7 linked regions of the Homo sapiens genome follow. The protein of the gene in region 2 purifies or fractionates together with the protein of the main gene of each other region. This does not show direct contact. Each region holds a gene or a part of one and is shown on either strand. Other genes may lie near its edges. The genes, in order: MACROH2A2, HMGN5, RAI1, TOP2B, KDM5B, RCC1 and NAA40.

The links.
Region 1: the proteins of HMGN5 (region 2) and MACROH2A2 purify together in Homo sapiens (affinity purification with mass spectrometry; one large-scale study listed by BioGRID and IntAct). This does not show direct contact.
Region 3: the proteins of HMGN5 (region 2) and RAI1 purify together in Homo sapiens (affinity purification with mass spectrometry; one large-scale study listed by BioGRID and IntAct). This does not show direct contact.
Region 4: the proteins of HMGN5 (region 2) and TOP2B purify together in Homo sapiens (affinity purification with mass spectrometry; one large-scale study listed by BioGRID and IntAct). This does not show direct contact.
Region 5: the proteins of HMGN5 (region 2) and KDM5B purify together in Homo sapiens (affinity purification with mass spectrometry; one large-scale study listed by BioGRID and IntAct). This does not show direct contact.
Region 6: the proteins of HMGN5 (region 2) and RCC1 purify together in Homo sapiens (affinity purification with mass spectrometry; one large-scale study listed by BioGRID and IntAct). This does not show direct contact.
Region 7: the proteins of HMGN5 (region 2) and NAA40 purify together in Homo sapiens (affinity purification with mass spectrometry; one large-scale study listed by BioGRID and IntAct). This does not show direct contact.

What each region holds. Positions count from the first base shown.
Region 1 is NC_000010.11:70,094,346-70,097,845, reverse strand, and holds part of MACROH2A2 (core histone macro-H2A.2), read right to left. Parts: intron 2,193-3,500; coding exon 2,093-2,192; intron 1-2,092. UniProt on the Homo sapiens protein: Variant histone H2A which replaces conventional H2A in a subset of nucleosomes where it represses transcription. Nucleosomes wrap and compact DNA into chromatin, limiting DNA accessibility to the cellular machineries which require DNA as a template.
Region 2 is NC_000023.11:81,195,414-81,198,913, reverse strand, and holds part of HMGN5 (high mobility group nucleosome-binding domain-containing protein 5), read left to right. Parts: intron 1-3,500. UniProt on the Homo sapiens protein: Preferentially binds to euchromatin and modulates cellular transcription by counteracting linker histone-mediated chromatin compaction.
Region 3 is NC_000017.11:17,796,458-17,799,957, forward strand, and holds part of RAI1 (retinoic acid-induced protein 1), read left to right. Parts: coding exon 1-2,056; intron 2,057-3,500. UniProt on the Homo sapiens protein: Transcriptional regulator of the circadian clock components: CLOCK, BMAL1, BMAL2, PER1/3, CRY1/2, NR1D1/2 and RORA/C. Positively regulates the transcriptional activity of CLOCK a core component of the circadian clock.
Region 4 is NC_000003.12:25,662,108-25,666,064, reverse strand, and holds the start of TOP2B (DNA topoisomerase 2-beta), read left to right. Parts: upstream 1-1,157; 5' UTR 1,158-1,767; coding exon 1,768-1,836; intron 1,837-3,957. UniProt on the Homo sapiens protein: Key decatenating enzyme that alters DNA topology by binding to two double-stranded DNA molecules, generating a double-stranded break in one of the strands, passing the intact strand through the broken strand, and religating the broken strand.
Region 5 is NC_000001.11:202,726,209-202,728,421, forward strand, and holds part of KDM5B (lysine-specific demethylase 5B), read right to left. Parts: 3' UTR 1-2,213. UniProt on the Homo sapiens protein: Histone demethylase that demethylates 'Lys-4' of histone H3, thereby playing a central role in histone code. Does not demethylate histone H3 'Lys-9' or H3 'Lys-27'. Demethylates trimethylated, dimethylated and monomethylated H3 'Lys-4'.
Region 6 is NC_000001.11:28,533,543-28,537,042, forward strand, and holds part of RCC1 (regulator of chromosome condensation), read left to right. Parts: intron 1-1,507; coding exon 1,508-1,604; intron 1,605-1,715; coding exon 1,716-1,838; intron 1,839-2,328; coding exon 2,329-2,484; intron 2,485-2,719; coding exon 2,720-2,839; intron 2,840-3,204; coding exon 3,205-3,357; intron 3,358-3,500. UniProt on the Homo sapiens protein: Guanine-nucleotide releasing factor that promotes the exchange of Ran-bound GDP by GTP, and thereby plays an important role in RAN-mediated functions in nuclear import and mitosis.
Region 7 is NC_000011.10:63,949,002-63,952,501, forward strand, and holds part of NAA40 (N-alpha-acetyltransferase 40), read left to right. Parts: intron 1-3,236; coding exon 3,237-3,332; intron 3,333-3,405; coding exon 3,406-3,500. UniProt on the Homo sapiens protein: N-alpha-acetyltransferase that specifically mediates the acetylation of the N-terminal residues of histones H4 and H2A.

The sequences.
Region 1 (3,500 bases), on a different chromosome or scaffold from region 2:
TGTGCCACTGTGCCTGGCTTAAACAAATGTTTAAGAAACTTGACATTTATGATGTAACTGGAATTGGAACACTGGTAATTTGTTGATATTGCTATCTTTTTAAGGGTACAATAATGGTATTGTGGCTGTGTTGTTAGTAAACAGCCCTTATCTGTTACAAGTCATTGTGAAATATTCATAGATAAAATGATGTCTGGAAGTATGTGGAGGGGGTAAGAGCTGAAACAAAGGTGGCCATGGGTGGTGATTATTGCATCTGATTGCATAGGGTTTCATTATACTTTTCTGTTATTTTTTGTGTATGCTTGACTTTTCCCATAATAACATAATGTTTTGAAAAGAGTAAGACAGGGCCTTGGCTGCTGGGATGATTAGTTTGGGTGATGGTGGTGGAAAATGGAATCGTAATGGGAGGGACTCCTCCTAACACAGCAGCAATAAAACCACTGTCAATTACTAACTGCCTAGGAGCCCAGCACTGTGCTAAGCCCCATCACAGCACCCCTATGGGACAGGTACTATTGCTATCCTCCCTTACAGAGGAGGAAACGGAGGTTCAGGGAGGTTTAGAAACCTGCCAAAGGTCAGCTAGGAAGCAATTCAGAAAAGCTGGGACAGTCCAGGCAGGCCGACCTGGAACCTGCCCTCTTAACCACCTGACTGCCTTTAGCCCATTTCTCCTCCCAAGACCCTGAAGCGGTTGGCCTTAGAATCCACTGCTGGGATCTGAGCGTGAATTTTTGCTCCCAGACCAGTGCTCTTTCTACTCTGCCACCATGCCAATTAAAAAAAAGAAGCATATTATTTTTCTTACATAAAAATTTCATTACTATAGAAATGTGTAAAGTATGAACACTGCAATGTGTCAGTGAGAGGCAGGACACCTATTAAAAGAGCTCCAGATGAAGGCTACTAGAGGGCGTCCTTCCATGGAGAGTGGAAGGAGACCTGTTTCTCTGTAATGCTGACTTTTCCCAGGGCTGTCCTATCTCCTTTTCAGCACAGCAAGTGGCCTCTGATGCCAGGAGGAAGCCCTGAGTGAGTCCAGCTGCCTGGGGCCCCTGGTGCTACCAGCCAGGGCTGAACTACTAGCATCTACCTCAAATTGCCTCCCTCACAGGCAAGCCCTGTACCCTAGAGACAAAGCCCCTTCTTTGCTCACTTTACCCTTTCCGTGGAGAGTTTAAGGCAGTTCTGCTTGGTAAAAATGGATGGGATGGGGACTGTTAGCATGCTGTTATTTCCAGCGCCCATAACAGCTTACCCTCCCAAGCTCCTCCACCCTGGCTATTAACAGCTCCCTCTGCCACTCGTGGGACAGGTGGCAAACCACAGGCAAAAATAACTCAATGCTCATAGCTTAATGGACAATCTAATTTTTTTCTAGATGTCCATTTCCCTTTTATCAATAGCACTCTCAATATTTAAGCTTACGATATATGTAAACATGTACAACAATATTTATAGTAGCACTATTCACTATAGCTCAAACTGGAAACTACCCCAAATGTCATCAGTGGTAGAATAGATCAATAAACTGTCATATATTTATAGAGTGTAATACTACAGAGCAAGGAAAATGAATGAATACAAGCATACTCAACGACATGGATAGATTTCACAATACTAAGTTGAGCAAAAGGAGTCGGACCCAGAAGAGGACAAGATTTCATTTTTACAAAATTCAAGACAGATGAAACCCATCTCTGCTTTGATAAGAAAGGACAGTGGTTACCCTTGGAGGAAATACTGACTGGGAGTGGGGCTGAGGGAGACTTCTGGGGTGCTGGTAAGGGTCTGCTTCAGGATCTTGGTGCTGGTTGCAAAGTGGGGTTCACTTTGAGAAAAATTCATCAAGCTCTATGCTAATGATTTGCTTTTACACAATACCCCAATAAAAATTTCAAAAATATATGCAGAATTAAAACAAAGTTAGCTTCTCTCTAGTGAAACTGTTCAACTACACATAAAGACAGAGCTTGACATGGGACCCCAGCGGAGGGACAGCCAGTTGACAATGATCAGCTTCACAAGAACTTGCCTGAACAGTGGCCTATTCTATGGCACTTCTACTGAAGTCTCAGGACCTTACCTATATCTTCTTTGAGGTCAATTTCGGCTGTGGTTGGGTGGACAATGCCCTCCACTCTCATGGAGCCAATATGGCTGATGTCACTCTGGGTTAAGGACAGCTGCATTAGGAAGAAAAGGTGGTGAATGTGGAAAAGATAAAATTCTGTTGAAAAATCTCATATTTTACTTGCATTCATTAATTCTCTTTAATTATTCATACCCAATGTCAACATAGGGGCTGCATAGAGAGTGACAACCTCCAGTTTCCCAGGTGTTTGGCTTGCAATAAGCTCTTTGAGCTCAGTGGATTTGCTTTCCACTCTGGGGCTGGCAGCATGCAACAAATCCATTTCTTCTTCCCTGGAACAGGAACAGGGCCTCCCCTCTCTTTTTTTTTTTTTTTTTGAGACGGAGTCTCACTCTGTCTCCCAGGCTGGAGTGCAGTGGCGTGATCTCGGCTCACTGCAAGCTCTGCCTCCCAGGTTCACGCCATTCTCCTGCCTCAGCCTCCTGAGTAGCTGGGACTACAGGCGCCCGCCACCATGCCCAGCTAATTTTTTGTATTTTTAGTAGAGACGGAGTTTCATCGTGTTAGCCAGGATGATCTTGATCTCCCGACCTCTTGATCCACCCGCCTCTGCCTCCCAAAGTGCTGGGATTACAGGCGTGAGCCACCGCGCCTGGCCCCCTCTCCTTTCTTTCTTTCCCTTACAGCTCATGCCTTTGGTTCCCAACCCTGGTGGCCTTAGTTTTCAGTGATGCATCTTCTGAGAAGCTCCTGCAAGGAAGCCCAGGGCTTGCTCTCTCTTCTCCCCTCAGCATCCTGCATTCTCCCTAGAAGAACACAAAATCTGTGGGGCAGGGCTCTGAAGCCAATAACCTTGCTGGAGAGAAGTAATGGGCTCTGGGATTCTGACCTGGGGGTGTCTGGCTCCCTTGCCCTTTGGAGACCACAGTCTTGGGGCTACCATTGGGAATTGCTATCCTATGTGTTCACAGTAGAGTGGAATGGAGGGCATTCTCTATTGTTGGCCCATGTGAGCAAGACCTTTATGTTGCCTTAGCTAAGTGAGAGAAAGCTAATCGTCATGTAACAGTGAACAGGCCAGAGAGGGGACATAAATTCCACCTCTTTGTTTCCCTGCTTTCATCAGTGACGAATTAGCAACCAGCCACACCGATGCTCTTCTTAGAACATACTCTTCCCAATTCTTTGAATGGAGGCTTACTGTGTTGTCAAGATGGAAACATTCAGCTACCAGAGATATGATTAACTGACTCTTTCCTTGGGTGTCTTATTTCAGCCCCAGTTGACTTGGTAGATAAATTGTCTGCTCAGTAAACTTTACACTTGTAGGAATGAATTATTTGCATGTCTGGTTGGGCTGCTGTTGTGTTGCTGAAGACTGTTCAAATGCATAGCCCTG
Region 2 (3,500 bases):
TGAATACCCATTCTTTCTTTCTCTTGCCTGATTGCCCTAGCCAGAACTTCCAACACTATGTTAAATAGGATTGGTGAGAGAGGGCATCCTTGTCTTGTGCCAGTTTTCAAAGGGAATGCTTCCAGTTTTTGTCCATTCAGTATTATATTGGCTGTGGGTTTGTCATAAATAGCTCTCATTATTTTGAGATATGTTCCATCAATACCTAGTTTATTGAGAGTTTTTAGCATGAAGGGCTGTTAAATTTTTTCGAAGGCCTTTTCTGCATCTATTGAGATAATCGTGTGGTTTTTGTCATTAGTTCTGTTTATGTGATGGATTACATTAATTGATTTGCATATATTGAACTAGCCTTGCATCCCAGGGATGAAGCCAACTTGATCGTGGTGGATAAGCTTTTTGATGTACTGCTAGATTCTGTTTGCCAGTATTTTACTGAGGATTTTCACATCGATGTTCATCAGAGATATTGGCCTAAAATTCTCCTTTTTTGTTGTTGTGTCTCTGCCAGGCTTTGGTATCAGGATGCTGCTAGCCTCCAGAGGCCACCTTCTTAACTATTACTGTTAACTCACTGCCTGGAAGAGTGAAAGTACTAAAAAAAAAGTTAGCAATTTTTTCATCCTAAAACACCACTTTCTTATATTACTGAAGACAACGTAGGCAGAAATACTTAAATTAGCTCTCCATTGACTATCGAACTAAACCTAAATTATGTTGCTAAACAGTTTTCACCATAATCTAGGCCCACACTATTCATACAATCTTACTTAGTGCTCCCCCAAACTAACTTCCCTATGTACGTAATCATTGTTGACTACCTGCTGCAATCATCATGCTTATGATCACTCTCATGCCTTTGCTCTTCCTGTTTCTTTCTTCACCTTCTCCCCACATTCTCATAACCTTTTCTGCCCTCTCCACTTATCCAACTCTTGCCTTTGCTAGACACAACTCAAAATCTTTATACAAATAATCAGGCAAAAGTAAGTCAGCATGATCTAGTCACCCTCCTCATTGCCAACATCAGGGCTACTGCTATTGCACTTTTCGGCCTATGCAACAGGAGACTCTTTCTTCTGTTTTTTTTTTTTCATTTTGCAAAATGAACATAATTTGTCTTATACTACCGTAGTATGACATCCCTTTCCCTTCTCAAGTGGACACTGCTATGCTCTCACCCCTCACTCAGAACTAAGAGTCTCCAGGTGAGTTATTTTCATTTGCCACACCAAAAGTAGCTGAATTTTCTTGATCAGCAAATACCCCCTCAGCAGAAGCACTCTTTATCATCACTGAGCTCTTTGGAGTTGTAATTCACCCTCTTTTCTCGCCCTGATAATTCCTCACTTTCCTCTTGAGGTCTTTGATATTTTTCATGTATTATAAAATACCTTCCAATATTTTAAATTCCCTTTATCAAGAGAGTTCCAGATCACCTATCCCCACCTTTTCCAGAAGCAGAAATTTTACCTACTTTTAAACTTTTGAGAAAGTTAAAATATTATTTACCTACAAAACACTACAAAATTATGGTGTAGAAATGTTTAATGAACTGTCTGAAAAACATTATCATGTCAACTTCATTGAATATTAAGTTTACTATTTGTAAAAATTTCATTTCATTTGAAAACAATTTGGAGTTTACATTTTTATCTCACATAAGCAGAATTCCTGTTTCTGCAGAGAAATCACTGTCGAGCATATTTTAATGAATTGCTTGTGGCTGAAAATTTTTTAAATTTTAAAACAAAGTTATACAAATTTTAGAATATGCTTAATATTTATATTTAAGTGGGATTATAAGTACATTTGCATTTTTATGTTTGATACACTGTGAAGTGGTGTGTATTAGTCTGTTTCACACTGCTATAAAGAAATACCAAAGACTGGGTAATTTATAAAGGAAAGAGGTTTAATTGACTCACAGTTCTGCATAGCTGGGGAGGCCTCAGGAGACTTACAATCATGGTGGAAGGCAAAGGGGAAGCAAGCTTGGACCTTCTCACATGGCAGCAGGAGACAGAAGAGGGAGGAGCAACGGGGGAAGAGCTCCTTATAAAACCATGAGATCAGCTGGGCACAGTGGCTCACGCCTGTAATCCCAGCACTTTGGGAGGCTGAGATGGGCAGATCATGAGGTCAGGAGATTGAGACCATCTTGGCCAACAAGGTGAAACCCCATCTCTACTAAAAATACAAAAATTAGCCAGGCGTGGTGGTGGCCGCCTGTAATCCCAGCTACCCAGGAGGCTGAGGTGGGAGAATTGCAGGGAGAGGTTGCAGTGAGCCGAGATCACGCCACTGAACTCCAGCCTGGCGACAGAGCTAAACTCCTCAAAAAACAAAACAAAACAAAAACAAAAAACAAACAAACAAAAAAAACCCATGAGATCTCATGAGAACTCATTCACTATCACTAGACCAGCATGGGGGAAACCACCCCCATGATCCAGTCACCTCCCACCTGGTCTCTCTCTAGACATGTGGGGATTATGAGGATTACAATTCAAGATGAAATTTGGATGGGGACACAAAGCGTAACCAAATCTTCCCGTTTCCAAAGTAAGAATGTCTGGAGTCTTGGTGGTCTTCAAAGAGCCTTGATTTTTAGAAGAACCAACAACATCACTCAATGATGCCCTAGTGCCCACCTTCCTGCCTCCTCTGGCAGATGGGAGACCAGTAATATAAAATTTTTTCTCTATTAACACACAACACATTAACACATAAATATGTAAATCACATACAAAATTACCGCACATTGGAGGATATACTGTTGTTCTCTTCAAGTGCCAGCAGAAGGGGAGTATCTGCAGAGGAGATAGGGTAGGTTAAGTAACAGAGTGTTATGCTTAAGAATTCTTATCCTGTCTCAGTCACCTGCTATGTAGTGATGTGCATCAGCAGGAAGCAACATTGACTCCTTACCAGAGGGAGTCCTGAAGTATTGTGTTCAGAGGTCTGATCTCATCCCAGATGGTACGTTCATGATTAGAGCCACTAGAGGGCGCCACTCAGCTATAGAAAAACAATGTGGAAGGCTTTGAAGCGCCGGACTTAAGAGATGTAATTTTTATTAGCTCTTTACAGAATTCCAGCAGAGGGATAGAATGTCATTTCATGCGTTGTCCCTGAGCAGTAACAGTAAATGGTCTCAAGGAAAAATAAGGCTCTACTCAGGAGCATCCCCTATTTCCAAAACCTTCTGATAGTTTGAGTAAGGGTTACTGCCCCACTCTTCCGTTGGGTATCACTGACTCCAGAGGAGGAGCGAATAAATTTGGTTATCATTGGAAAGAGACAGGATAGGGATAGGGTGGAATTTTAAACCCCTTAAAACCTCAGAAGTCACTCTAACCCTCTGTGATGGTTAATACTGAGTGTCAACTTGAATGGATTGAGGATGCAAAGTATTGTTCCTGGGTGTGTCTGTGAGGGTGTTGCCAAAGGAGATTAACATATGAGTCAGTGGACTGGGAGATGCTTACCCACCCTCA
Region 3 (3,500 bases), on a different chromosome or scaffold from region 2:
CTGCCGTGCCACCAAGAAGCTCCTCGACAACAGCCACTTGCCCGCCACATTCAAGGTCTCCAGCAGCCCCCAGAAGGAGGGCAGGGTGAGCCAGCGGGCAAGGGTCCCCAAACCTGGTGCAGGCAGCAAGCTCTCTGACCGGCCCCTCCATGCGCTCAAAAGGAAGTCGGCCTTCATGGCGCCGGTCCCCACCAAGAAGCGGAACCTGGTCTTGCGGAGCCGCAGCAGCAGCAGCAGCAACGCCAGTGGCAATGGGGGAGATGGGAAGGAGGAGAGGCCTGAGGGTTCCCCCACCCTCTTCAAGAGGATGTCTTCTCCCAAGAAAGCCAAGCCCACCAAGGGCAATGGCGAGCCTGCCACAAAGCTCCCACCCCCGGAGACCCCCGATGCCTGCCTCAAGCTCGCCTCTCGGGCAGCCTTCCAGGGGGCCATGAAGACCAAGGTGCTGCCACCCCGGAAGGGCCGGGGCCTGAAGCTGGAAGCCATCGTGCAGAAGATCACCTCGCCCAGCCTCAAGAAGTTCGCATGTAAAGCGCCAGGGGCCTCTCCTGGTAATCCTCTGAGCCCATCCCTTTCCGACAAAGACCGTGGGCTCAAGGGTGCTGGGGGCAGCCCAGTGGGGGTGGAAGAAGGCCTGGTAAATGTGGGCACCGGGCAGAAGCTCCCAACTTCTGGGGCTGATCCGTTATGCAGAAATCCAACCAACAGATCCTTAAAAGGCAAACTCATGAACAGTAAGAAACTGTCTTCTACTGACTGTTTCAAAACCGAGGCCTTCACATCCCCGGAGGCCCTGCAGCCTGGGGGGACTGCCCTGGCGCCTAAGAAGAGGAGCCGGAAAGGCCGGGCAGGGGCCCATGGACTCTCCAAAGGCCCGCTGGAGAAGCGGCCCTATCTTGGCCCGGCTCTGCTCCTGACTCCCCGAGACAGGGCCAGTGGCACACAAGGGGCCAGTGAGGACAACTCTGGTGGAGGAGGCAAGAAGCCAAAGATGGAGGAGCTGGGCCTGGCCTCCCAGCCCCCGGAGGGCAGGCCCTGCCAGCCCCAGACAAGGGCACAGAAACAGCCAGGCCACACCAACTACAGCAGCTATTCCAAGCGGAAGCGCCTCACTCGGGGCCGGGCCAAGAACACCACCTCTTCACCCTGTAAGGGGCGTGCCAAGCGACGACGACAGCAGCAGGTGCTGCCCCTGGATCCCGCAGAGCCTGAAATCCGCCTCAAGTACATTTCCTCTTGCAAGCGGCTGAGGTCAGACAGCCGGACCCCCGCCTTCTCACCCTTCGTGCGGGTGGAGAAGCGAGACGCGTTCACCACCATATGCACTGTTGTCAACTCCCCTGGAGATGCGCCCAAGCCCCACAGGAAGCCTTCCTCCTCTGCCTCCTCTTCCTCATCCTCGTCCTCGTTCTCCTTGGATGCAGCCGGGGCCTCCCTGGCCACACTCCCTGGAGGCTCCATCCTGCAGCCGCGGCCCTCCTTGCCCCTCTCCTCCACGATGCACTTGGGGCCTGTGGTTTCCAAGGCCCTGAGTACCTCTTGCCTTGTTTGCTGCCTCTGCCAAAACCCGGCCAACTTCAAGGACCTTGGGGACCTCTGTGGGCCCTACTACCCTGAACACTGCCTCCCCAAAAAGAAGCCAAAACTCAAGGAGAAGGTGCGGCCAGAAGGCACCTGTGAGGAGGCCTCGCTGCCGCTTGAGAGAACACTCAAAGGTCCCGAGTGTGCAGCTGCCGCCACTGCCGGGAAGCCCCCCAGGCCTGACGGCCCAGCTGACCCGGCCAAGCAGGGCCCACTGCGCACCAGTGCCCGGGGCCTGTCCCGGAGGCTGCAGAGCTGCTACTGCTGTGATGGCCGGGAGGATGGGGGCGAGGAGGCAGCCCCAGCCGACAAGGGTCGCAAACATGAGTGCAGCAAGGAGGCTCCGGCAGAGCCCGGCGGGGAGGCCCAGGAGCACTGGGTGCATGAGGCCTGTGCCGTGTGGACCGGCGGCGTCTACCTGGTGGCCGGGAAGCTCTTTGGGCTGCAGGAGGCCATGAAGGTGGCCGTGGACATGGTAAGAGGCCAGCCCAGCCAGGGTGGGGAGTGTGGGGTTCCAAAGGACAGGCAGGCAGGCAGTCGGGGAGCCCCTTGTTTCTAGTGCTACAGTGTGGGCCAAATGTGTCTGCAGTCTCGGGACAATCTGCAGAGTCCTGAGCCTCTCTGGGGTGTGTGGGGGAAGTGGAGGCACCCATCTGGCTAAGGCAGGTCACACTCACCTACCCTGTCCCAGGAGACTTCCCGCCGGGGCCCGTATGCCCAGCCACCGCCACTCTCCCACTCACCTGGCATCTTCAGGCTCCAGCCCCACCCAGAATCCACTGGGCCCCTCCCCATGCTGTCACCGGAGATGCCAAGGCCCAGAGAACACGAGGACTCCCAAGATTGAACATCAGGGCTGCCCCGGGCGGTGCAAGAGCAAGTTGCCCACCCTCTGTTCCTGTCTCCATTGCCTCTGGGATGAAGCTAAGGGCTCAGGAAGACCCTCTCTGGCGACACAGGCTTGGTGCATGGACCCAGTCACAGGGTTCCTCCCTCTGCAGGACAGTCCATGGGGTCACACAGTCACAACAGGCAGGGCGGGGCAGATCCAGACCCTCTCACCATTGGCTCTGAGACCAGCTTTGGAAGCCATAGTCACTGAGCACCAACATGAGAGAGGGAACTCTGGGGCTGTGCCGCCATGCACCTTTGGGGCTGTGACCTGCCCTCTCTGTGCCTCCGTCCCCTCGCCCCTAACGTGGGTATGAGGGTGCCCATGGAGGAGGGGTCGGGAGGGTTAAAAGGTGGGCACCTCTGAGCCCACCGAGCACAGCAGCCCTGTGATAGTCAGTGCAGAGGGGCCTGGTGGCTCTGGTGACAGCAGGGTGACGTTCTTCGTGGTGTCACCACTTCCCCAGTACCATAGAGTACCTCTGTGCCCTTCTGAGGGAGGGGTCAGTGGGGGCGGTGGGGTGCACCTCTCCCCCGGGGCCATGCTTCTGCCCCCACATTCAACCCCGACTCCACTGCCTCATCCAGACTTCCGTGGAGTGACGCTCCCGGCTCTCAGCGCTGTGTGGTGGCTCTCAGTGGGGACGCCTGCAGCCTTCTCTGGCCCCTGCCCTGAGTCCCATCCCCTCCACTCCTTCCTTCAACCCACTATGTGCGGCTGAGGTCACAGGGGAGCCAGAGGGGCTTGGCAGGGGTCTCCAGAGGCCCTGGACAAACACTGCCTGCATCTGAGTGATTCAGTGACCCAGCACAGTGGCCCCAGCCGGTGGCTTCGCCCCTCCCCCTGCCCAGCCTCCTCCCCCGTCGCTGCACTGCCCACCTGCTCCTCGCAGTACACCCCTGCAGCCCCTCTGAGCAGCCCCTGCTCCTGACAGTTGCCGTGGCATTGCCTGGCCAAACCAAGGTCCCGGTGGGGGCCCACTGTGTTTGCCACCCACGCCTCCTAGTGTGTGTCTTGGGCACCTGCT
Region 4 (3,957 bases), on a different chromosome or scaffold from region 2:
ACTCTTTGGTGGCACTTCATGCCTTCAAGTACTCATTTTGGTGATCGTTGGCTCCCTTTTAGTCTGTCTCACAAGCCAGGTTATAAATGGTTTGAAATCAGGGGCCTTGTTTTTACTTTGAACCCATCGCAGAGCCTGGCACAGCGTGGCAGAGTGTGCGCCCAATAAATACTTGAGTGGAATTACACTGAAAAACAGGAAGAAGTAAAGCCATCTTCCATCTGCCAAAGACTGTGATGTTGCTGTATTGGTAATTTTCATTCTTAGAAAGCTTTAATGTGAATGAAATTATTCCTTACTGTGCATTTGAAAATTCCACTGAAAACAGTTTTAAAAATTAAGCATGCCCTCTTAGAGGCAGGGGGCACAGTTCTGGACAGATGAGAAAAGTGACAGTGACATCTCTGCATTGTTCAGAGAAGAAAGGTCAACAAAGAGTAGAAATAGAACACTCAACCCACCCTGCATTCTTTCCCTAGAACATTCTCTGTGTGTCCCTTATCATTTAAGCTTTTCATATGTAGTTTTCTTGAAACTGACCATATGCTCTTTTGGGGTGAGGGGAGGAGACGGAAGAAGGAGATGGAGAAGGTCTGAGATGATTTTTTTCGACAGCAGCGTCCACTTAGGCCCTTGGGGAGGCCGGGTCACGGGGCCTCCTTGCACCAGTGGTCTACAACGTCTTGCCTGCGGTTTACAACCGCTCTTTTAAAATAATTTCCCTTTGGGACGGCCCCCGGCTTCTTCCTGCCACCCCCATCCCCACCCCGCCCCCATCCTCATCCTTAGAGGCCCCAGGCAAACGCTTCGGATTCCCGGTTAGGTCTCAGAGTAAACAGCACGCTTGGAGGATTACAATCGACCCGAGGCCAATTCGACCCTTTCCCTTTGCCGCCCTCAATTGACCCTTGAAGCAGCCCCTGCTCTCCCTTCAAATGGAAAACCCACAGACACACACACAAACAAAAACCCCAAGTCTTCCTTTCGGTTGCTACCCGCAATGACGTTTCCCCCCTCGGGTCCCGCCCCTCCAGGGGGCTTGGAATTTTGGGATTGGCCGAGAGGCTGTGGCGACAAGGCCCGGATTGGACAGCATGGCGCTGACTGACAGCGGGGGCGGCCGCCGCGCCCTCCCTCTCTCCCCGGTGTGCAAATGTGTGTGTGCGGTGTTATGCCGGACAAGAGGGAGGTGACCGTGGCGGCGGCGGCGGCGGCTCTGTTTATTGTCCCTCTCGGTGTGTGTGTGTGAGGAAATCGGGGCTGCAGCGAGGCTAAGGCTGCCTTTGAAGCAGCGGCGGCGACCGGGACGACTACTCTGGCGACTCGAGTGGCTGGCCTTCGCGGAGTGTGAGAAGGACAAGGCACCTCTGCGTCCTCGCCACGTCCGAGCGCCTCGGGCTCCCCGGCCGCCCTCGCGGCTCGCACGCCCGGGCTTCAGCCCGGCCTGCAGCGGCGCCCGCGGGCGGGCGAGAAGGCAACGCCGCCGCTCGGCCGCCGCCGGTCGCTCCCTGCTTTCTCCTCAGCCGCCGCGCTAGGCCCGGGCGACGCGGACGCCGCGCCTCGAGTTTGAGGGCAGCCGGCGGCGCGGCCTCCTCAGCGGGCTCGGCTGGACGTCCGCTCCGGATCTTCGCGATGGGGCGCGGGGGTCGGCGCGGCTAGGAGTGCGGCGAGTGGAGCGGTGGGTGCGGAGCGGCGGGGCCCAGCGGCCCGCAGGGAGGCGGGAGCGGCGGCTGCGGCCTCAGGGCCTGTGAGCTGGAGGCACTCGCCATGGCCAAGTCGGGTGGCTGCGGCGCGGGAGCCGGCGTGGGCGGCGGCAACGGGGCACTGACCTGGGTGGTAAGTGGCTGGTCCCCGGGACGGGCGGCTGCATTGTTCCGGGCCCGCGGCGGGGGCGGAATTCCGAACGGGCGGGGGAGGGGAAAGGGAGGGAAATCCCGTCCCCCGAACGGGCGCTCCATAGGGGCCTGTGCTTGCAGAATCCTCCAGCCCGCTCCCCGCGCCTTTTCTTTCTTTCTTTCTCTGTACGTCTCTGGAAGTCCTGACTGCCAGAGCGTAATGTGTACTTGAAACTTTGGGGGGACAAAACCGCGAACGTAACATACAGCCCCCGCTTCCTCTCTTTTCTTTTTAACCAGACTCTTCCGGGGCAGCCGAACCTGAAATGGTGGGGATGGCGATAATGCAAGTGTGTCTGTGTGGGGCAGCATTTTCTCCAAATGTAGTTCAAGAAAACCCTGGGAAAAGGGGTGTGTGTGTGTGTGTATTCTAAATGCAGCTCTTTCTGGGGCTTTAATCTCAAAGAAGAATGCATTGGGATTTCTACAGCAACTTGCACTTCAATTTGGAAAGCCTCATTCAATGCGCTCAATTGAGAGCGCATTGGGGATGACTTTCACAGCAGTTAATACTGTAGGTCGTCCCTCTGTCAGGGTGAGATTATTAAAAGAAGTGCTTGTCTACGTCAGCATCGCAGGTGTAACGGGGTGAGGGCTGAATGGATGTCCTGGAGAGGTGACTGAAGTGCTTAGTCCTGAAGTTAAAGGATTTCGACGCTCAGTTCTTGCTGGGAAGTAGAAGTAACTGCAGCGGAAGGAGGAAGGGAGACTGGATTCCCACGACAGATCGATAATTCGCCGGCATTTCACTTGCTCAGCGTAGAGTTCAGACCAGGGTCATTTCCTATACAGAAAACCTAGGTATTTCGGAGAAAAGTAAAAAGTGTTACATTTTTCTGGACTTTTGACGGTCTGTTCCCCCGTCCCTGTTTTAAATACCTCAAGGGAGCTTTCATATAGGCATTTTTGTTACTTAGTTCGTTTTCTCTTTGTTTGGGTGAGGTTTGGGTGAGTTGAATAGCAATTTGTGCTATATTGACAACTGCTTCTTATAAAAAGGGTGCTACTGACAGCAGCAAAACATTTTAATCACTTATGTTTGCGTGCCAGGGTACATTGCAAAATAACTTGCCATGCTCTTATTGTTGAAATTCTTTGAATGTTGTATATTACTCCGATTATGTAGAATGAAAGTATGAAGGGACTAGGGCCAGGAGAGAAAATGTCAGATACTAAGTTAGTGGTCCATGTGGACTTGCAGTAGAGGGTATGTGAGAGGAAGAAGGAGGAGATGGACACATACATGCAAAATAATGACTTTCAGAATTAATGGCTTTTACCCCTGTCACTAAAATCAGACATCGGAAAATTGACTTAGACAGCCAAATGGTATTGTAAGTTCTCATTCACTATTTGGAAGTGTTGAGGCCTGATCGGTGTTTCCTCTGAAGACCTCTGGTTCTATAATGGTAAACATTTTGCTCCGTAGTGGATTGTTGGCTTTAACATTTGATAGCAGTACTTTAATTAACTGTTATATAATTTTGTAGATAATTAAATGACAATTTATTTCTTTCAAGCTCCATAGGAAACTCATTGCTAATTTAGCAAAACTTGGAGCATCTCATTCAAGATAGAAAAATCCATTTGAAACTGAAATTGACTTATTGATTAAAGGAATTTTCATTATAAAGCAGATTATGGAAAATATGGGAAATGCAGTAAAATAAAGAGAAGTGAAGATCACTTAGTGTTTTATTTATAGAGTATATCTTATGGAATTAGAAGTTTATTAAAAAGATAATCACTCCTGTAAGTCTTCTTTAAGAGTTGATGCTTACTCTAAGGTTATATGAGCATCTTTATGTCCATAATATACATCATTGATCATATAGACTGGTTTGATTTTATGGGAGGCAATATAGTGAGGTAGTTATGGGCTTTGACGTCAGGCTGATGTAGGTTCAGATACTGTCTCTCCAACACATTTAGTTGGACTTTTCCCAAGGAACCTAACCTTTCTAAGCCTGTTTTTTTATCTGTCAAATAAGGTTGCATTGAGAATGAAATGAGATAACGTGTGTAGCACAGTGCTGGGCTTAATGATGTTTGTTATTATTGG
Region 5 (2,213 bases), on a different chromosome or scaffold from region 2:
TCACTGGAGAATGAAGCAGGGAAATTCAGGTTTTTAACAACCTCCATCACCACAAGTGGCATCTCTCCTTTAGGTTAACTTAAGATAGAAAAATGAATCCCACCTCCTAGGATACTGAAACGAAGCTGTAAAGAAGTCAACTTCCTTTACATAGTCCAAATTACATAACCTTTCTCCAGGATAGAGGCTACATATAATCAAGCCCTTTATTCTATATAAGAAATCCCCCAAAGTCTAATCTGGAAGGAAAAACAAAAAACAAACAGTATTCATTTAGGTGAGGTGGAAGGCACACCTCATCTACCCTTTCTTTCTTTACCCACTGACCCTCCTTCTGGTTCAGGCTCTAACTTAACACAGTCCCTTCCCCTCTCCCACCTCACAAAGCTGCAGGACTACTGAGATGGAAACTGAAGTGTCAGTTTCCATGTGCATTTTATCATTTTCCCCTACAAGTTCAGAGGTTTCTCTGGTACAGGCCAGCTTCACAGCTAACACACAATGAAACATGGTTTTTAGATCACATCAGTCTGTAGTCATTTTAGGGATACAACAAAGGCATAAACTGGAAAGTAAACGTTATCTGTGTTCATTAGTAGTGTGATGGTGTACAAGGTAGGAGGAATACTGTAGGAAAACTGGAAGATAAAACCCAGGCTTTGTTATTTACTAGTAGTACAGTGTAGCTTTGGGCAACTGACATTCTCTTTAAATTCAGCATCATCACACATAAAATGATCAGTGGTTCTCATCCAGGGAGGGAGTGGTTCAAATACACACATGCCTACCTTTTCTAACTCACTCAGAGATACAAAGATCTGACTTCCTCAAAGATGCTATTGTCAGGGACTGTGTACCACCACCCACAGGTGAAGAAGAAAAACTAGTGGGGATGGGGGTAGGGGTTGTGCTTACTAAGATGGCAAAAGCTCTCTAAAGGCAGTGGCTTTATATTAGCAGCAGGGTCTCCTTTTAAGCTTAATTTCTCAATGGAAGGTGAGGACTGGGACAGTTGGCATCCTATCTCAAAGTCGGGGGTGATGGAGGGGATTCTAAGAATTTGAATACTAACAAGGCCAAACCACGATGATTCCAAATTGTACTCTGGAGACTATTCTTCTCTATTGGCCCCAGAACCACCATCAGACGAAGAGAAACATCACAACAACTGCAGAAAACTGCAGACAACTAGAAGTCATTCTTAAAGAGATTTAATTATTTGAAGTGCATAAAAGGGGAGGGTACATTTAAACCTCTGCTATATCACAAACTGCTGTTTTTGTTGTTGTTTTATTAAAGACCCACCAGTTTTACTCATCTTCAGGTTTATGGCTATAGAATGTGGGGAAAACAAAAATTGGCAACAGAATAGGAAAAGGTAAGCAAAAGTCTGGTCACCAGAATGTCTTCTCCACTGCAGAACAGACCCCTTTAAAAAAGAAAAGCAAGGAAAATAGCTATGGGCTATCCACAGCCAGTAATGATAGCTACAGTTAGAAAGAAATGAGAAAGGAAACCAGGAGGCAGAGTCTGGGAATTCACAAGTCTCCTCTCAAGACATATACTAAACCCGGACCTCTGTGAGGATTAATTTTCCTTAGATTTCCTTCCAACGTCTTAACCCTAAACCAAGTTCCCCTGTCAATTCAAATATAATAAAGGCAGCATTCCACAAGGAAGACTGATTTGAGGATTGAAGTGATTTGCCAACATTCTGAGAAAGCTTATTTTAAAAGAGCACGGCTTTAAAGATAGGTTCTAGTCCTTGAAGACAGAGGGGTTCTTTGTTAGTGAGGGCTGTAGGCATATGGCCCACCAAACAGAGCAGGACACAAAAGAAGAATCCCCTAATGTTGTTTGCAGGCTAACATCCACTGCTACTGCAACCTGGTTGGGCAGAGGCAAAAGCAAGCAGCCCCTTCTGGCTGTGCAACAGTAGAGGGGCAGAAGAAGCTGTGCTCTAATGGCTCTAAATAATCAGCATTTAGTGTTATGTTAGGACGAAGGATTTATTCCACAATATAAACTGTAACATTTGATACAAGCTACCAAAAAATAGGGGAGAAAGGAAGGGACAGGGAGAAAGCCAAAATACAGCTGTGGCAATTACTTACAGAGAAGTCTCTTTTCTACATCACTAGTTCATCAGTGACACTAGAAACTAGACATTTGTGTTCTGTACATCAATCAATCGCTAAAGCACCAACACACTG
Region 6 (3,500 bases), on a different chromosome or scaffold from region 2:
CTGATCACCTGAGGGGTCGGGAGTTCGAGACCGGCCTGACCAACATGGAGAAACCCTGTCTCTATTAAAATTACAAAATTAGCTGGACATGGTGGTGCATGCCTGTAATCCCAGCTACTCGGGAGGCTGAGGCAGGAGAATTGTTTGAACCTGGGAGGCGGAGGTTGCAGTGAGCCGAGATCGCGCCATTGCACTCCAGCCTGGGCAACAAGAGCGAAACTCTGTCTCAAAAAAAAAAAAAAAAAAAAAAAAAGGAAGTAATCAGAATATCAGAATTATATTTTTTTCTTTTCTTTTCTTTTCTTTTTTTTTTTTTTTTTTTTTTTTTTTTTTTTTTTTTTTTTTTTTTTTTTGAGACAGAGTCTTGCTCTATCACCCAGGTTGGAGTGCAATGACACAATCTCGGCTCAGTGCAACCTCTGCCTCTCGGGCTCAAGCAATTCTCCTTCCTCAGCCTCCCGAGTAGCTGGGATTACAGGCATGCGCCACCACACCTGGTTAATTTTTGTATTTTTAGTAGAGACGGGGTTTCACCATGTTGGCCAGGCTGGTTGTGAATTTCTGATCTCAGGTGATCCGCCCGTCTGGGCCTCCCAGAGTGCTGGATTGCAGGCTTGAGCCGCCACGTCTGGCCTCTTTTCTTTTTTCTTTGTTTTGAGACGGAGTCTCGCTTTGTCGCCCAGGCTGGAGTGCAGTGGCGCGATCTCGGCTCACTGCAAGCTCTGCCTCCCTGATTCACGCCATTCTCCTGCCTCTGTCTCCCGAGTAGCTGGGACTACAGGCGCCCGCTACAACGCCCGGCTAATTTTTTGTATTTTTTGGTAGAGACGGCATTTCACCGTGTTAGCCGGAATGGTCTCGATCTCCTGACCTCGTGATCGCCCGCCTTGGCCTCCCAAAGTGCTGGGATTACAGGCATGAGCCACCGCGCCCGGCCTCTTTTCTTTTTTAATTAGAGACGAGATCCTGCTCTGTCACCCAGGCCAGAGTGCAATGGCATCGTCTTAGCTCATTACAGCCTCAACTTCCTGGGCTCAGGTGATTTCTTCCACCTCAGCCTCGCAAGTAGCTGGTACTAGAGGCTTGTGCCACCACGCCCAGCTAATTTTTGTATTTTTTGTAGGGACGGGGTTTCACCGTGTTGCCCAAGCTGGTCCTGAGCTCAAGCGATCTGCCCACCTGGGCCTACCAAAGTGCTAGGATTACTGGCATGAATTACCATGCCTGGCCCAGAATAGTATATTGAGTGCCCATTTACTTGCCACACAGTTTCAATGATTATCAGCTTGTGGCCAGACTTGTTTATCTCTATTTGCATCCGCTCTCTGACTCCTTGATTATTTTAATGCAAGTCGCAGACCATAAATGATTTCATTCATAAGTATTTGAGTATGTGGCCTGGCTCCTGCCCACTTCTCCATCCCCATCTGGTGCCACTGCCCTTCTGGATTTCACTGGCACGGGGCAGGCAGGACTGGCTGATAAGTGCCCTGTCCCTCCCTTCTAGGACAATAACGGTGTGATTGGACTGTTGGAGCCCATGAAGAAGAGCATGGTGCCTGTGCAGGTGCAGCTGGATGTGCCTGTGGTAAAGGTGGCCTCAGGTGGGTCTGGGGGCACTTGCTCAGGGCAGGAGTTGGAGGACCTTGTTCTGGGGCTGGCCTAGCCTTGGGCCTTACAGTTGTGGCCTGCATCCCTTACCTTTTCATCCTTAGGAAACGACCACTTGGTGATGCTGACAGCTGATGGTGACCTCTACACCTTGGGCTGCGGGGAACAGGGCCAGCTAGGCCGTGTGCCTGAGTTATTTGCCAACCGTGGTGGCCGGCAAGGCCTCGGTAAGTGGCCTTGGTACCTCCAGCAGGGCAAATTGGCAGGCCACCCCCACAGTGAAGGCCAAAGGCAGGAAGGATTTGCTGTGGTCAGGCTTGCATCAGATGGGCTTGTGGTGTTGGTTAGGACTTTGGAGACAGACTGCTCTGGTAGTTTTGCCACCTACTGTCTATGGGACTCTGAACATAGTTTCTTCATCACTAAGTCTACCTACCTGTAAACCTACTTCATTAGGTTGCTGTGAAGTTAAATGAGTTAATGAGAAGAATATCAGGCAGATGGTAAGTTCCACGTAAATGATACCCGTAATGACTGTGGGAATCTGAGCAAGGCACTTGTATTCTCTTGATCTCAGTTTCCTTTTCTATAAAATAGGGATAAGAGTCCCTACTTAGCCTCTCAAGGGCTTTTATAATGGAGGAGAATTAAACTCGGGGCAGAGAGAAGCCATGTGTGTCTGTCTGTCACTGACCGTGGCTTTCCCTTTGCCTGCAGAACGACTCCTGGTCCCCAAGTGTGTGATGCTGAAATCCAGGGGAAGCCGGGGCCACGTGAGATTCCAGGATGCCTTTTGTGGTGCCTATTTCACCTTTGCCATCTCCCATGAGGGCCACGTGTACGGCTTCGGCCTCTCCAACTACCATCAGCTTGGTGAGCCCCGAGCCCAGCTTCAGGCATGACCCAGTGGCCTGCGTTCCTGTCCTGGCTCTGCCACTCATTCATTGTGCATCCTTTGCGGGGTCGTCTAACCCCTCCAAGCCAGTTTTGTCATCTGTAAAGTGAGAATGTCCATATCCTGATGGGAGGTGGCCTCACTGTGGGAGGAGATTGAGAAGGGCAGCTCTCAGAACACCTTCACCCCTGATGGCTCCGGCCTTTCCCCCAGGAACTCCGGGCACAGAATCTTGCTTCATACCCCAGAACCTAACATCCTTCAAGAATTCCACCAAGTCCTGGGTGGGCTTCTCTGGTGGCCAGCACCATACAGTCTGCATGGATTCGGAAGGTAGGGCCTTTACGTCCTTCTCTAGTTTGGGGGTGGAGTGTTCCCTGGCCTAGGCCTAGCCAGATTCCTGAGACCATGGTCCTTGGAGCCTGGGTCTGTTCCATGGGTTGTACCATACATGGGTCCATGAGAGTCACTCTCATCCTCCTAGAGTCCTGGTGTTCTTCCAAGTGTGAGTTCAATGGGGGCCCATGTAGATTCTCCTAGGCCTCCTCCAAAACTGGGAAGAGACACTGCAGATCTCCTTCTGATCGCTCTGGGAGCAGGGACACACTCCCATGGACAGGTGGACTCACCTAGCCTGCCACCCATTTTGCCTGTAGCACGCCCTCTGCTATTGCTCATCTCTCTCCCTCCTCCCATAGGAAAAGCATACAGCCTGGGCCGGGCTGAGTATGGGCGGCTGGGCCTTGGAGAGGGTGCTGAGGAGAAGAGCATACCCACCCTCATCTCCAGGCTGCCTGCTGTCTCCTCGGTGGCTTGTGGGGCCTCTGTGGGGTATGCTGTGACCAAGGATGGTGAGTGGGGCTGCCTACACTCTGTCTAGTTGGGACCTGGGGGTCATGGTTCTTACCCAATTCCCCAATAGGCTGTGATGTCCACTCTCGGGGGAGCCGAGGTACAGAGAGCAGTGTTTGTGATGGCACTTTGTTCCTGCTTC
Region 7 (3,500 bases), on a different chromosome or scaffold from region 2:
AAGACCCTGTCTCTACAAAAAAAAAATTTTTTTAATTAGCTGGGCATGGTGGCACATGCCTGTATTCCCAGCTACTGAGAAGGCTGATGTGGGAGAATTGCTTGAGCCTGGGAGATGCAGGCTGCAGTGAGCCATGGTAGCAGCATTGCACTCTAGCCTGGGTGACAGCAAGATCCTGTCTCAAAACAAAACAAAAACCCAAAAACCAAAAATGGTTCTAATAATAGTACCTTTCTCATGGACTTGTCAGGAGGATAAGATGTAAAGTGTTAGTTCCTGCAGCATAATAAAAGCTAGATAAGTGTTTGCTGTTATTTTATTTTAAAATTTTATTTTAGATTCGCGGGGTACATGTGCAGCTGTGTAGTGGTGGGGTTGGGCATCTAGTGTACCCATCACCCAAATAGTAATCATCGTACCCAATAGGTAAATTTTCAACCCTCACCCTGTTTGCTGTTACTATTACTGATCCAGTTAACTATAGGCTCTGGAGTGAAGGCCCCCTCACGTTTTTTTCTCGTTTTGGTTTCTAAAATAGGAAGTATAATCTGCCTTACCTGAGATGCTGTTGATGAGTTGTGCTTCCAGAATGTAACATCTTGGCTTGGGGATAAACTGGGGCTCTGGGGGATTGAATTGTAGCTGGGCTTCTTAATAACTCTACTTGGAGAAGTCACTCATATTCCTCAAGCCTCATTTTCTTACCTGTCAAATAGGATGATGATGCCAAACTTGCAAGCTGTTTTTTTTTTTTTTTTTTTGAGATGGTGTCTTGCTCTGTCACCCAGGCTGGAGTGCAGTGGCGCCATCTCGGCTCACTGCAAGCTCAGCCTCCCGGATTCACGCCATTATCCTGCCTCAGCCTCCCGAGTAGCTGGGACTACAGGCACCCGCCACCACGCCCGGCTAATTTTTTGTATTTTTAGTAGAGATGGGGTTTCACCGTGTTAGCCAGGATGGTCTCGATCTCCTGACCTTGTGATCCGCCCGCCTCGGCCTCCCAAAGTGCTGGGATTACAGGTGTGAGCCACCGTGCCCAGCCAAACTTGGAAGGTTTTTTTTAAGGAAGAAAGAGAATATATGCAGCTCAGTAAGTAGCAGCTGGTATGAGGTTTTTTTTGTTTTTTTTTTTTTTTGAGACAGAGTCTCGCTCTGTGCCTAGGCTGGAGTGCAGTGGCACGATCTCGGCTCACTGCAGCCTCTGCCTCCTGGGTTCAAGTGATTCTCCTGCCTCTACCTCCTGAGTAGCTGGGACTGCAAGTACATGACATCACGCCCTGCTAATTTTTGTATTTTTAGTAAAGACGGAGTTTCGCCATGTTGGCCAGGCTGGTCCCGAACTCCTGACCTCAGGTGATCCACCTGCCTCAACCTCCCGAAGTGCTGAGATTGTAGGCGTGAGCCACTGCGCCCGGCCTGGAAAGTCTTTTGACATACTTTAGATATCCCATATTGTGATATCTCATAGTGTTTTCGTTTTTGTTTTTGAGACAGAGTCTCGCCCAGGCTGGAGTACAATGGCATGATCTTGGCTCACTGCAACCTCTGCCTCCCTGGTACAAGCAATTCTCCTGCCTCAGCCGCCGGAGTAGCTGGGATTACAGGCACCCCCCACCACGCCCGGCTAATTTTTTGTATTTTTATTAAAGATGGGGTTTCACTATGTTGGCCAGGCTAGTCTCGAACTCCTGACCTCATGATCCGCCCGCCTCGGCCTCCCAAAGTGCTGGGATTACAGGCGTGAGCCACTGTGCCCGGCCTCATAGTGTTTTCATATTCCGTATTCCCATTGACTTCCAGAAATGTGGAATAGCTCCAAAACAGGCATTGCCAGCCAAGTCTGGGCTCCTCTGGTGCCTTGAATTTTGTGTGGTTCCTGTGGTTGTGATCTTACTTTCATGTACTTTAATGGAGAATTCGTACCTGCAGGTGGGCTTTGGACATTTTATAGTTAAGATAGGTGCAGTGCTGTGTTTGGGCAGCTGTGATGGCTAAGTGGGTGATAAAGAAAGGAAGATGCTTCAGGGGCAGGGAGTTCTGAATTCATAAGGCTGAGTGTGGTGTGCCAGTCAGTAGAGGTGATGGGATTCCAGTGCGTACATCCTCTGGGGGTTGTGTCAAAGGTCACTGAAAGGTATTGATACGGGAGCTCTTTAAAGGCTTAGAGTTTGCTGACTCTAGTCCTTTCAGAATGTAGTGCTCTCTAGGGAATGTGATTTCACAGATCAGTCAAGGAGTTTAACTGTTTTTTACTTAAATTTCATTTAGAAACAGATACCTTAACACTTAGGCATTTGTGGGTTTAGAAAAACAGTGTTGGGCTGAAGCCTGCTTCACCCGGTTTTTTTTTGTTTGTTTGGAGACAGAGTTTCGCTCTCACTGCCCAGGCTGTAGTGCAATGGCACGATCTTGGCTCACTGCAACCTCCGCCTCCCAGGTTCAAGCGATTCTCCTGCCTCAGCCTCCCGAGTAGCTGGGATTACAGGCACCCACCACCATGCCCAGCTAATTTTTTTGTAGTTTTAGTACAGACGGGATTTCACCATGTTGGTCAGGCTAGTCTCGAACTCCTGACCTCAGGTGATCCATATGCCTTGGCATCCCAAAGTGCTGGGATTACAGGTGTGAGCCACCATTCCTGCCTCAATCTGTTTGATCAGCTGAGAGTATCCCCCCTGCTCAGATGAGGCAGGCAGGACTCCTGGGGCGGGGTGGGGCGTGTTGAGCCGTAGTCTTCTCGAAGGACCTAGGGTCACCCAGTGGTTTTGAAGGCGCAATTGGTAGATAAGAGGAATGGGGTCCCATGGGAGCCTAGTGAGGAGTCAGCTCAGAAATTACAGCAACAGGAAAAATGCCTAAGGGCAGGAACTAAATAACAGAAGACATGAGTGTTTATAACAAAGTACAGAAGAGACAGAAAAGGTAGAAAAAGAATAAAGAGAGAGCAGAGAGGGACAAGAAGTTTACAAAGTGCCGAGGCGGATTAGGACAGCTTGGGGAGGCAGGAAACGGGCCTTGTGGTTGGGGGGTGGGCCGTGTGGCCACAGTTGTTAATCTCAGCCTGAAAGACTTTGTTCCTGCACCTTCTCTAGTCATGCTGGGGCAGATACAGGGTTGGCTTTTCTCTGTGCAGTAACTGAGACTGGGCCTTCCTCCCTGTGATTCTGAGGGAGGAACAGCAGTGCCCTGGCAGGAGTGCTGTAACCAATTCCGTACACGTCCTGTCCTCTTCTCAGGTTGAATGTCTCCATTGAATGTAAGCGAGTGTCTGGACTGGAGCCAGCCACCGTGGATTGGGCCTTCGACCTGACCAAAACGAATATGCAAACCATGTAAGCTTGTCCCAACCAGGGGAGCCTAGTTCCTCTCGCAGCTTTCCCGTCTGACTGCTCCCAAATTCCCCAGGTATGAGCAGAGCGAGTGGGGCTGGAAGGACCGAGAGAAACGGGAGGAAATGACAGATGACCGAGCCTGGTACCTCATCGCGTGGGAAAACAGCT